Linked DNA regions of Homo sapiens: region 2 is linked to region 1. The links come from fine-mapping of genetic effects on gene expression. Tissue or cell type: whole blood. Region 1 holds a variant in brackets; the other region holds the start of a gene. All regions are shown on one strand. Distances are between the middles of the regions.

Region 1 (2,913 bases):
GATCTGAAGCCCAGGCCAGGTCACAGCACACGGACCCTATAACCAGCAATTAGGAAAGTAGCCAGCGTTTCTATCTATGGTAGCACTGAAAAATCTTTTCCCCTGAGTTTAAGTCAGGCTGGAAGACAGGGAATTCCATCGTGCCTTTTGTTTCTGTCAGAGTCAAAGCAGGAAATAGCTGCCAGCTGAGTATTCATAACAGGGATTTAAAAACTGGGAATTAATTACACAGAAGTGGAGGAACTGAGAGCCAAGCATGGGGTAGTGAGGCAACCCAGAGAATCATAACTGAAGGGAACCACTAAGACCCTAGGCCAGAGGGACAGAGGAAGAGGCAGTGTTACGGGCCCCTGGGCGAAGCTGGCATCCTGGCAGGACTGTTCTGGAGATGGCGCTGCTGGGGAGTTGCTGCCCAAGACAGAGAGGGAGGGGAGAAACATTCCAACTTCTCCCCTCTTCCCTCCCTCTAGTGTTCCACCAGTGCCTCCCACTGGCCAAATATGCAGAATTCAAGGGTCAGTCCCCTGAAATACAGAGCAGAGCAGGAGAAAGTGAAGAACCAATTTGAAGGCAATATGCCCAGGAGAGACCAATTGCCCTTGTTTGTCAACCTTCACCACTGCTCCAAACACAAAGCCCTCATACACACTTCCATAACAGTATCACTCCTGGCTTACATGCCCCACAGTTTTTCCTTATCCTTCTGCCATCCTTGTGCCAACCCACCAGCTATGCCTTACAGAGCCTCCATTCCACTGTAAACAAACTACTCTATGTCCTGCCTCTTCTTCAAATATTCTCTCTGACTTGAATTCAATCCTGATTCACACTTAGCAAAAAGCCCTGAATCATTTATTCACTCATTCAACAATGACATATTAAATGGAAATTATACCCGTAATAACTAACCTTGCATTGTTGTATGTGTTTTATATATATTAAGCCCTCCAATTCTCGCAACCACCTTATGCCCCTTCTATAGATGAGGAAACTGAGACAAGAAGTCCTTAAGAAACTTGCCACTCCCATAGTTCATAAATAGCAGGGCCAGAAATCAAACATGCATCCAGCCTCGAGAAACCACAGTTTTACCCACCATACATCACTGTTCCAAAAATGAATATACAGTAGTGAGCAACA[G/A]ATAAAGTTTAGTAGAAGAAGACATTTTTAAATTTTCATTTTGTAATAATTTTAGTTTTACAGAAGACTTGCAAACAATAGAGAGTTCCATATACCCTTCACATTGCTTCCCCTAATGTTAACAACTCACACAACCATACAGTATTTATCAATACTAAGAAACTTTCATTGGTACGATGCTACTAACTAAATTACAAACTCTAACCAAATTTCGCCAATTTTTTGATTAATGTTTTCCTTTTCCAGGATCCAATCCAGGGCACCATGTTTCATTGAATCATCATATCTCTTTAGTTTCTCAGACTTTCTTTGTTTTTTGTGACCTTGACACCTTTGTAAATTATTGATTAGGGCCAGGCCTGGTGGCTTACGCCTGTAATATCAGCACTTTGGGAGGCTGAGGTGGGTGGATCACCTGAGGTCAGGAGTTTGAGACCAGCCTGGCCAACATGTTGAAACCCTGTCTCTACTAAAAATACAAAAATTAGCTGGGCATGGTGGCGGGCACCTGTAATCCCAGCTACTAGGGAGGCTGAGGAGGAGAATTACTTGAACCCAGGAGGCGGAGGTTGCAGTGAGCCGAGATCACACCATTGCACTCCAGCCTGGGTGACAAGAGCGAAATACCATCTAAAAAAAAAAAAAAAAAGGATTGGTTAGGCATTTTGGAGAAAGTCCCCGCATTTGGGTTTGTCTGATGTGTTCATATAAGTAGACTAGAGTTCTGAATATTTTGGACAAATGACATATTGGCAAAGTGCCCTTCTCACCACATCACATCAAGGATACAAGCTATAAACATGAGCTATCATTGATGATGTTAACCTTATTAATTTAGTTAAGGTGATACATGGCAGATTTCTCTGCTGTTAAGTTTCTATTTTTCCCTTTTCATATTCTGTTAGTTAGAAGTGAGTACTAAATCCAGCCCTCACAAGGGAAGCAGAGTTAAGCTCTACATCGTGGAGGAGGCAGCAACTACGTTTATCATTTGGAATTTGGCAGGAAATATTTATCCTTTCTCCTCCATTTATTTATTTATTCAATCATTTATCACTCAGTAAACATTCATGAATATTCATTTTATTTTTTAGGTTATATTCCAATACTGTCATTTATTTTGTTTCCCTAACTGGGGCAACAAGTTAGAGCTCCCACTGCCTAGCTTTGGCCAATGGGAGCTTTTTCAGGTTGACTACTGTGCCCTTTTCACATGTCCCCATTTTGTTGAGCCCTTCCTTGCATTCTGTCACTACAAAATGCTCCAGGCTTATCTTGGATTTTCCCACCCCTGCCCTAGAATCAGTGATTTCTCCAAAGAACACTGGTTCCTTTTATTGGAGAATGGTATCAGAAACCAAGATCTGGGTGCCGGAAGTGCTTCTAGTTTCTCTCAGTGGAAAAAGATAGAAAATACATGTATGTATATATACTAACCCATGTATATATACATAAAAAGACTTTGAATAAATGAAAGCACAAATGGGTTGTTATAAATGCTATGAAGGAAAATACCAGATTCTTTATAAAAGGGTTATAGATATGATTTAATACAAATGGGGTTAGGTAGAAGTCAAGATGGTCTTCTCTGCAGTTAAATACTTAAGGTGAAATCTATTGAATGACTAGGAATTAGCCAAGTGAAAGGGCAGAGAGACAGCAGTACAGGTAGAAAAACCATCATTTAAAAGAACACTAAATAGCAGGTGCTCAAAATGTTTGAAGAGTTGGATGAAGTCCATCGTGGTGAGAGTGGAATGATCCAGGGGATAC
Region 2 (2,881 bases), 36 kb after region 1:
TCAGACCAGGTCTTCAATTCCTAAATCTTGTAGTTTTAATTAAATCACATTACCAATGTACCTAGTTCCAGCATATAAAGTGACTCCAGAGGCGTTAAGAAAGTTCTGGAATAATGTTAAGGGAGTCAATAGCAAACGTACATACTGTATTTTTAGAATGAGACTGATTTACACTTGGGGGCTTTTAATTGCAGTCGTCCATCAGTTTTAAATTTTCAGTGTCTAAATATAAAAACGCAGCAATATAAAAAAAAGCCAGCTGTTTTCTTACTCAGAGCATGAATTGATGAGTTTATGAATGAGTGAAGTGACAGCAAGACTAAGAATAGTCTAGCCCTTTTCAATCACCTAAGCCATCTATCAATACCTTGGAGAGCTTCCAATTTCAGGTCACCTCCCCCGACCCCCCTCCACCCCACAACATTCTCGGAAAAAGCAAATTTTCAACTGACAAAGGAAAATGGATACATTAATATCTTCCATGTTTTTCAAAACATTTCGTTTATTTTGCTACTTGAAAACGGTCTTCCCTTTTGCCCCATGTAAAATAAAATTGCTCATGATCTATGGTCCCGTGAGAGCTTATTTAAGGAGCACTGACGGATTCTATTTTCCTTATTAATGTGGCATATTTGCCACGTGTGCAAATGAAAACATCCCTTTCCAATGAGTGCCTAGGAGGAAATCAGCTCTTCCTTCCTCGAAGAGTTTTAATTCATGGGTATGATCTATTTCTTTCTTTCTTTATTTTGTTTTATATATTTTTTAGAGACAGAGTCTCGGTTTTTTGTCCAGGCTGGGGTGCAGTGGCATGATCTCGGCTCACTGCAACCTGTGCCTCCCGGGTTCAAGCGATTCTTCTGCCTCAGCCTCCTGAGTAGCTGGGATTACAGTCATGTGCCACCACCCCCGGCTAATCTTTGTATTTTTAGTAGAGAATGGGTTTCGCCATCTTGGCCTGGCGGGTCTCGAACTCCTGACCTCAGGTGATCCACCCGCCTCAGCCTCCCAAAGTGCTAGGATTACAGGCGTGAGCCACCTCGCCCAGCCGGTAGGATCTATTTCTGAAGACAATGTGGAAGCAGAGTGTGGGCCCTCCACAGGTGTAGCGAGGCGGCGTGCTACCGCGAAGAAGGAGGGAAGACGCCTGAGCCCAGCCGGTGCCCTGCTGCCCCTCTGCCTCTTCGGCCACTGGGGCTGAGCTTCAGCCTTACCAATCCCCGCCGCGCACGCGCGCTCGCTTCCCGCGCGCAACCTCCCACCCCCGCCCTCACTGCACCTGCCAGGTCATAAACCTCTTCCCACCCACTCTCACTCTCTACCCAAGGCTCAGGCTTGTCTCACGTTGATTGGCCAGAGCCCACGAGGGCACGTCCAATCAGCAATCCCCCCTGCGCAACCTATCCCGGTTCTTCCCGCCCCCGCCCCGCCCCGCCCGCCCCCCCGGGTACCTACCGTCTCTGTGACTGGTGCGCGGCCAGGTCACTCAGGGCGGCGGGGCGAGGTGTGCGGGAGTGGGCAGGACGGGTGGGAGGAGGGGAGGGGTGGGAGAAGGCGGGGCTCAGGTGCCTGGCAGCGCGGCCGGGGCCCAGGAAGGGGAGGGGGCGAACGCTGGAGCGAGGCGGGGGCGGGTGAGGAGGGGGTGACGCCGGACGCGTCGACAGCGCGAGGGTTCGCGCGTGAGCTGCGCGGGTCGGGCCTGGTACCGAGCTTTCCTGGGGGCTAGCAGGTCGTGGACGCCGGCTCCTGGAGGAGAGCCGGTAGGAGGGAGTGTGAAGGTGTCCGCGGCGTCGTCGACGGCGGCGCCGGCCATGGAGGAGACGCAGCCGCCGCCGCAGCCTAAGCTGCCCCTGTGCGACAGCCTCATGATCTGGGTGAGTGCGAGGAGGCGAGAGGGCGAGGGGGCCAGGGGGCCGAGGCGAGGAGCCTGGGGCGCCCGGTTCTCCCAGGTGAGCTGGGGCTACCTGCACAGGGTCCCGGCGCACCCTGCCCTTCTCACCTCGTGCCCTTGACCGAGAGAATGCCACCTGCGGGTCGACGGGCAGGTGTGTGGGCGCGGGTTGGTGTCCGGGGGTGGGGGTAAAGGAAGCTCTGGGAGCGTAACAGTGGAGGCTCTGGTCTCAACCAGAGGATTCGACCTGCCTGGTGCCCTAACAGCTGGGATATGAACCAAGCACCCATCCTCTTTTCTCCCCGCTGCCCCATTTTCTCCCCCTGAACAGCGCCCGAGCCCTCCACTTTCTGGATCGCCGACTCTCTTGCCTTGGTCCGCTTGGGCGTGAAGACCCTTTCCGAAACCTAACCCTGCATCCTCAAACTACCTTGCTCTACCTGGACACAGGTGGCCAGGAGGTGGCTGGCTGTTTTAGTTCCCGGACCAATGCTCCTTCAGGACTCTAGAACATCCGATTTTGTAGAAGCCGCTTCAAAGAGATGTTTGTATTTCCCGTATGGAGAAAAAGATGTGTTGGGAGTCGGGGGTCGTTTTCCCTTTTTCTCGCTGGCCCTCTCCTCCTCTAAATGGACAGCATTTTCTTTAAAGAAAATGAGTTGACATTTTTCTTTAGGATTTATCTGTGTTTAGGATTTTTGTTAATTTGTGTTGGGTCTGGACAGGCATATCTGTCCCCAGATTGTTCAATATTCCAGTCAGCAAAATGACATCCCACCTCTTAGAGTTACTTAGATATCAGTGCTGGCATTCAGGTGTGGTTCTTAACCCATATTGAGTAAAGATGGTGTTTGATGAGCCACAAGGTGCTGTTGATGATGCTCATCCCAAACCAGTTGTTTAGTTGCGTCTAGGGGAGTGTGTGCAGATGGAATGTAAACAGACGGGATCAGGAGGCTGTAATCGGTTGAGATTCCCTAGTGATCTAAT

The links. PIP is the estimated chance that this variant, and not a neighbour inherited with it, causes the effect.
Region 2: it holds the start of HOOK1, and the variant in region 1 is fine-mapped to the expression of HOOK1 in whole blood (TOPMed, PIP above 0.99).

What each region holds. Positions count from the first base shown.
Region 1 is chr1:59,777,221-59,780,133 of GRCh38, forward strand. All of the region lies in intron 4 of LOC105378758 (a long non-coding RNA gene), which reads right to left. The region is part of intron 2 of LOC101926944 (a long non-coding RNA gene); the gene reads left to right. Among named protein-coding and RNA genes, the nearest start is that of HOOK1, 36 kb to the right of the region's middle. The variant G/A (reference allele first, on the strand shown) is at 1,141.
Region 2 is chr1:59,813,307-59,816,187 of GRCh38, forward strand. It overlaps HOOK1 (hook microtubule tethering protein 1), which reads left to right and starts at 1,643. Exons shown (of 22, transcript NM_015888.6): 1 at 1,643-1,874. The coding sequence starts at 1,812. LOC105378758 (a long non-coding RNA gene) reads right to left here and starts at 1,560. Exons shown (of 5, transcript XR_947426.3): 1 at 1,456-1,560. RefSeq lists a silencer at 1,111-1,710 and an enhancer at 1,947-2,510.